2 linked regions of the Homo sapiens genome follow. The protein of the gene in region 1 interacts with the protein of each later gene in a pairwise test. Each region holds a gene or a part of one and is shown on either strand. Other genes may lie near its edges. The genes, in order: GRM1 and MAP2K5.

Evidence for each region.
Region 2: the proteins of GRM1 (region 1) and MAP2K5 come close enough for resonance energy transfer, tested with the Homo sapiens proteins (one large-scale study listed by BioGRID).

Annotation. Positions count from the first base shown.
Region 1 is NC_000006.12:146,158,030-146,161,850, forward strand, and holds part of GRM1 (metabotropic glutamate receptor 1 isoform alpha precursor), read left to right. Parts: intron 1-1,318; coding exon 1,319-1,568; intron 1,569-3,821. UniProt on the Homo sapiens protein: G-protein coupled receptor for glutamate. Ligand binding causes a conformation change that triggers signaling via guanine nucleotide-binding proteins (G proteins) and modulates the activity of down-stream effectors.
Region 2 is NC_000015.10:67,545,703-67,549,523, forward strand, and holds part of MAP2K5 (dual specificity mitogen-activated protein kinase kinase 5), read left to right. Parts: intron 1-3,391; exon of another isoform or gene 3,392-3,478; coding exon of another isoform or gene 3,479-3,505; intron 3,506-3,821. UniProt on the Homo sapiens protein: Acts as a scaffold for the formation of a ternary MAP3K2/MAP3K3-MAP3K5-MAPK7 signaling complex.

The sequences.
Region 1 (3,821 bases):
TTACAGGGGTGATGTAGTATAATTTCCTTGTGCTATTGAATATCATTTTTGGTACATGTGCTGATGAATTTTAAATAAAACCATTCAGCAAGGTTGTGTCTTTTTTAGCCATATTTAGGTGCTCAGGTGTAGACATGGAATAGGTAGATGGTTGGGTTTAACTAGCATTAATGTCAGGAAAACATAAGAGAGTTAAGGAATTTGCAAGAAGCAATTAAGAGGTAGACTATGAAATCTAAGCTGGGCTAAGAAGGAAACAAGAGGGAGGATGGAAGGAAAAAATAGGAAGGTTAATGGATTTGAAATTTTGATGAGGTTGAAAAAGTGCTGCAGTAGAGGTAGTAGAATATATGAGTTTGTATGATAAGATGAGGTAGCAGAGATGGATGTTTGACATCCACATTCAGAGGTATTAGAAACATCTGTGATAACATGGTCAAAAGTGTGACCCTGGACATGTGTGGGTTACAGGAAACATCAGTGGAAGGGGAGAGTTTGAGAAATCGTGAGGGCATGGTATCAGATGTATCATCCACATACAAGTGAAAATCCTCAAACTTCGGGAGAGGAATAGAGACACAGAGGCTCATAAAATGGGGGCTAAAATCATCAGTGGAATAGAGAGACAGGGAACTTGTAAAGTGTAATATTTATCTCATTGATTTCTATGAGTTTTCAGTTTTTTGAAGTGTATTTTATTACAAGAATGCTATAAAACAAAAATCAAAATATAAGACACAAACCTCTCATAATCCCATCACTTTGTCAGAGGATGGTGGATTTTGACAAAGCCCTATAGCTGTTTCTGGTCTGCTGATCTCTGGCCTGGCCAGGTGTTCCATTTATTTTGCTTGCTCATTCTTCGTGGAAACGTTGCAGGACTTTATGTTACCAAGAGTGTCTGTCTCTTAACCTGGCAGCCAGCTGATGCAAGTCCTCAAATAAACAGAGCTTCTCTTCATGCTCCTTTGACCTCCCTAGTCCAATGCACTGATCTCTCCTACGTGGTTAAAATCTGGGACAAGAACTATTAATAATGGTTGTAAAATAGGGCAGCAATCCTTCATTTTATAAAACATGTCTCATTATAGGTTCCCTAGCTCAGATCGTCTCTCGTTATTTCCACAGAGTTGATTGTCTGGTTACATTTGATTACTCTCTTTAATCCATCCAGATCTTCCGTCAGTCTCAGCCATATTTACAAATTATTTGGCAAGTCCGTTCTCTCCATTCCTGTGACTAACAAGTTGTTATTCCATTGTGTAAGTAGTGTTATTGCCACAGTTGTCTTGAACATCTGCTGATTGTTTCTGGACAGGGAATTATGGGGAGAGCGGAATGGACGCTTTCAAAGAGCTGGCTGCCCAGGAAGGCCTCTGTATCGCCCATTCTGACAAAATCTACAGCAACGCTGGGGAGAAGAGCTTTGACCGACTCTTGCGCAAACTCCGAGAGAGGCTTCCCAAGGCTAGAGTGGTGGTCTGCTTCTGTGAAGGCATGACAGTGCGAGGACTCCTGAGCGCCATGCGGCGCCTTGGCGTCGTGGGCGAGTTCTCACTCATTGGAAGGTAAGTTTCTCTCTCTCTCTCTCTCTCTCTCTCTCTCTCTCTCTCACACACACACATGCACACACACACTTTGAAACACATATGCTTGCTTTCACAAAACTAGACTTGCTAACTCCAAAGTGGGAGAGATGTGCAGTGCTGAGCTGAACATTAGTTCTGGATCTCACTGTTAATGTGAATATTGGCATCTTCCTGCTAAACAACAGCAGAACAAGGCTCAGGAGGGAGGATTGGTTAAGCCCAGGAGTTTGAGGTTACAGTGAGCTATGATTGGTGCCACTGCATTCTAGTCTTGGTGACAGAGTGAGACCTTAACTATAAAAAAAAAAAAAAAAAAAGGAAAGAAAGAAAAACAAGAGCAGAGCAGCATATAACAAGATACTGATACTTTTTCAGAAAAAAAAAAAAGATGGAAAGCTGTTTGGCAGAATATGTCTTGATCTGGAGAATTATTCGTTTCACTTGCTTTCTCCACACCCAAGCCGATGCTTATGTCTTCCTACCTCCTAAACATGAACATCTTATTGAGATATCAGTGGATAAAGGACAGCAGTGAAAATGGAAAATATGTATTAAGATTTGAAATTTACAGAGTTGGCTAAAGACAAGTGAAGATATGCAACGGAACTGTGGAATTTTATAATATATCATCTTGTCACATTTATGAGATAGCTAATTTTGATGCTTTCTGCATGTGATTTCTGGAATTGCTGGTGGTGGCTCCCAAAATTTCTGTTCTCTTTCTAAATCACGTGTACTTGTTTGGCAATAGATGGTCATCATCACTGGATTTTTCATAGGGCTTTTGACCTAACAGATATCTTGTTTAATTTGCCAGCTTCTAATATTGCATAAATAACCTGCTCAGTTTTCCCCAGGAACCTACTGAGTTTACCTGATCTTTACTGATCTTCAACCCTATCACACTCATCTTCCGAAGCTCTTTGTCTCTTCCCATCTCTTCTTCTGGGTACACTACAATCATATCACACCCATTAAAGAGCCTCAACCACTGATCTTCTGCTCTGGAAGCTAGGTAGTACTGGTGTGGACATGCTCACTGGACCTTTCCCTTTTGTCCTTGTGTTTATAATAATGACTGCAATTCTAGGAACACTAACTTTGCCATCACCTGAAATTAGAGGTATAAGACACTTGAGGGACTTTTTAAAAGAAAATAGGATAGAAATACAAATAAATGAATAAAGAAACAGAGATACTCTCCAAGCATGAGGAGGTGTGGAGCCAAGGTCAAATTGTAATTCATGATTAAGATAATTATTAAATGTGGGCAAAATTGGCACACTGGCACACAGAGTCAACTTGGCGTCTTCAACATGGTGCAGTTTTTGGAAGCCAATAAAATGTTCATAAGAAAGCAGGTCTTCTAAGGAGTATTTAAATAAGAAATGTTATTTCTTTTAGGAGTGAAAAGAAGGTAAGCAGTATTGTTGAAGTGTTACACAGAGTAATATATGCACCAGGACAGAGGGTGTCCAGACATTCAGGCCTTTCCATTGCTCTGTAACATGACTGCTTTTAGGAAGGTTGCTTGTTTTTAAAAAATTCTCATATTTATAATTTACAAAACAACAGTAGTCTGTTTTGCAGAATTTATTCCTTTTATAATATCCTCAAAAAAGGGTTCTGGAGATATTGAAAAGATGTGGCAAACCTGTGAGCTTCGGGGCATATAGACTACCTAATTATGAAACATAATTACACAAAATTGTGCGGTGTGTAATTGGAGTGTGAAAAATGTATCCTGTCACCATTGTGAGCTGGACAAGAATGATAATGGCAACTTAAGTCTTTCTAGCTCTTTTATTTTACCTCCTAATAATGCAATTGAACTCATACAAGTATTTCTGAGAGTCGCACATGTGTTTGTTTATGTGCTTGTCTATGAACAGGTCAGCTACATGTGATGTCTACCTCTTTTATTCCTCTTACCTGCCCCACCTCTACTGGATTCCACATATCCGAGGGAGCTATTGTCTCAATGAACACCTGAGCTTCTGAGGACACTGCTTTCTGTGCTAATAGTTACGGTCACTGATGCATGGAATCATTGAGATGACAAAGCTATACCATACTCTTTGCCAAGTGAAGGAAAGTGTCTCTCTGTTCTTCTGGGCTACTTTCCACGAGTGTCTATCAAAATGGTGTTGGCGTTTAATCTCGAATCTTAGAGAATTTTAATGAAAGCAGCCTTTAAAATTTTTTGGCTCACAATTTTCTCTCCCTTCCATG
Region 2 (3,821 bases), on another chromosome or scaffold:
TTGTACTACTGGGGCAAGTATCTTCTGTATCTCAGTTTCTTTATTTGTGAAAAAAAAGTTGGGGAGGGGTGAAAGTAATGCCTACCTCCTAGAGTTCTGAGGACTCCTTGAGTTGATACATGTAAAGCACTCAGAACAACTTAGCACATAGTAAGCGCTCCATTAGTGTTGTTATTATTGATGGGATTGTTATTATAAGGGATTGGACTTGGGTCTTCTGTTTCTTGAGCATCTCTAAGTTGTACCTGGCTCAAGGCTGACTGGCTTAACAGGAAACACGAGTGGCCCCACCACTAGAGCTCAGCATGCCAGGTGTCTGCACACTTTTGGCTAGGTAAGCCCAGGTGGAGCATGTTTTGTCAGAAAGGCCTGACGAAGGACCTGTGGCAGTGGGTGTTCAGTGCTATCTCCTAGTGCTCCATTTTAGCAAATGTTCAAGCCCAGATCATGGCAGACTCCTGTGATCTGTTCTCCAGGTTTACTTCATCTCTTCATCAAGAAAAGGCAAGAACCAAGAGACACGTCAGCATCTCTGGCTTGGAACCTTAAACTTTAAAGTCACGTGGAACCTGGAAGAATCCCCTCATCTAATTCAGACTCATTTCGAATGAAGAGGCATGAACCCCACAGGGGGAAAATACCTTGCTAAAGCCACCCAGCTAATTTTTGGCAGAACCTGACACAGATGCCAGAAGCAGGTTGTAGTCACCGAGTCAGCCATAACTGAGTGTCTCGGACCTGAAGTCAGCAGTTGAGGGCTCCAGTCACTGTGCATCAAATAGCTGGGAGACCCTGGGCAAGTCAGTCGGTCTCTCTGGGCCTTGTCTTTTGTCTGAATCATCAGGGACTGGCTGAACTATGGAGGCTGACCTGACCCTCAAAGGTAGAGACATTTGGGTCTTCTGTTTTGCAGCTTTCTGTGTTTCTCTTTTTCCCTGGAGACTGAGTTCCTAGTTTTGGGAAAACTATACAAGAGGTCTGGTTAGTGTGTGATGAGAGAGAATGCCCAACCCTCTCCCCTCTTCTTTTTGTATTCTGTGGTCTCCAAGCTCAGATTTCCCCTCATCTATAAGACTTCTGGGCCAGGAGTGGTGGCTTAGGCCTGTAATGCCAACACTTTGGGAGGCCGAGGTGGGTAGATCGCTTAAACTCAGGAGTTCGAGACCAGCCTGGGCAACATGGCAAAACCCCATCTCTACAAAAAATGCAAAAATTAGTGGGGGCTTGGTGACACTCACCTGTGGTCCCAGCTATTAGGGAGGCTGAGGTGGGAGAATCTCTTGAACCTAGAGGTCGAGGCTATAGGGAGCTGTGATTGCACCACTGCACTCTAGCTTGGGTCACAGAGCGAGACCCTATCTCAAAAAAGAAGAAAACACACACACACACACACACACACACACACAGATTTCTGTCTAAACTGAGTCTGTGATTTTTTCCTTTCTCCTGAGTTACCAAATACTATTGGCTGTTTATGTCTTTTGTTTGGTGCTTATACTCTTAAGTGTTTTATATTACTAGTCTTTCAGGTTTGTCTTTATCTCTGTAACCAGTTTATAATCTTCCTAAAGTCAAGGATCAAGTTTTATTGTCCTGTAGCCTACAGCTTTGTGATCTTTATGCTCGTGGCATGTTGTAGATGCTCAATGATGTTTTGGATCTGTCAGATATTTGTCTGATTTATTGAAAGGAAGAAGAAAAGTATCAAAAAATGGTCATCATCAAAATATGTAAACTTCGGTTTTCTTTTTTCTTTTTTTTTTTTTTTTTTGAGACAGAGTCTCGCTTTGTTGCCCAGGCTGGAATGCAGTGGCGTGATCTCGGCTCACTGCAACCTCTGCCTCCCAGGTTCAGGTGATTCTCCTGCTTTAGCCTCCTGAGCAGCTGGGATTACAGATACACACCACACATCCAGCTAATTTTGTTGTATTTTTAGTAGAGACAGGGTTTCACCATGTTGGCCAGGCTGGTCTTGAACTCCTGACCTCAAGTGATCCACCCACTTCGGCCCCCCAAAGTGCTGGGATTATAGGTGTGAGCCACTGCGCCCATCCCGGTTTTCTTTTGAAACCTTCTTTAGGTTAGTTAGGTACATGTTATATTGTCAAGAGCAGAAGAAGGCCGCTTGGAAATAAGTCACTTTAGCTGGAAAATGTATATAAAATCATCAAATGTACCCTGCTTTAAAATGACTAGTAGATATTACTGATGTTTAAACTTCTTACCTCTTTGTCATTATGATTGCCCCACTTTATTTGCTTTAAAGAACAAAATGGTTGGTTGTGTTCACATGATTCTCTCACTCAAGTTTGCTTTGTTCTTTCTCCCTTTTCCTCGTATCAGGTGAGGAGCATGTGCAGTGCCTTGTTTATGTCGATGGGCTAAGGCATGCCATTGCCACTGAGCAGGTTTTCAGTTGGTTGTTAGAACTCTGCACTTTGATGGGGTCTGCTATTCCTAAGTAGGAAGGAGCCTAAATTAATTTGCTAACACTATAGAGGTACAGTTCACATCTCAAGATCGGAGTTTCCTGGAAATAACTGGTGATAACCTAGACTTAGAGAGTTGGGGATGAAGCAGTTGTTTTCCCCTCGTTTTTTTAAACCTACACTGGCTAGAATGAGTGTTCAATAAGTACTGCTGAAGGATGAAGTCAGTGAGTGAATCACCATCCTCCACTGATTGTAGGGTGCTGGAATTTCAAAGTTTATTACGAAGTAAGCTTTGTAATATTCCAGTTATTGGTGTTTTGTTTTATTTATTTGACACTAATATGGCACTTGCCATGTGCTAGACACTCTTCTGAGTACTTTACAAATACTAACTCATTTGTTAGGTACAGCTAAGATCTGATATTACACATGAGGAAAGTGAGGCACAGAGAGATTTTGTGCACTCAGCTGTGCCAGAGAGCTAGCATCCAGCTGTAGCTGTTTGGCTGCAATTTCATGTTTTCAGGCTTTCCACTGGATTGCCTGTGTGCTTTATTCTGTACTCCCTTTACAGTTTCCTGTCAATAAATACTTTCTAACTATGAGAGTGTAGAAATAATTTTTTAACACTAAAATCTTTTATAGATGCTTCCTCAAAAAGTTGATGTTTCATTTGTGAGGACTAGACTCAGAAAAAAAAATCTCTTTTGGCTGTAATGAGCAAGGACTGCCTAAGATAGTCCTCTTTGATCAGTTTTATATGCACAGATTTATTTTTGAAAAAAAAAAAAAGCACTATAGAGGCAAGACTATTATGCAAATTGCCACTGCAGCAAAAGCTTCTAAAGAATTGCCTTTAGAAGGAAGTTGCAGCCACTCTGCTAAGTGCCCTGCTTGGAAAGGCTGTGGGCTCCCTGCTGAGAAATACTGCGAGCGGCTTTGTCAGCCGGCTGCCTGGTGCCAGTTCTGCTGCAGCCTGGGAGGGACACTGTGGCAGAGCTCCTGGAGAGAAATGAGGTTTGCAGGCCATTGGAGTTGGACTGGACATGATGGAGGGTCACTTTCCCCAGAGCGTAGGTGTTCTATGCTTATTCAATTAAGCTGTCTCAGTATACTAATTTTCATGTGTTTTCAACTTTATAGATTTATTTAAGCATTGATGTCAGATTATATACCCTTTTTAGATTTTTGTTGTAGGCTAGATTAACTTTATTTCGGTGTCATTAAGTATGTTTTCTGTTGCTTAAGAGTAAAGGTTGATAAGAACTGTTTGTGTTAAATGTGGCATAATGGGTTTATATCGTCATGGAAACTTGGGTGTCGAACTCCTACCATGATGAGTGCGAGGCACAGTGTTGCTTGTTGTATATCAGGAACTACATTTGTTGA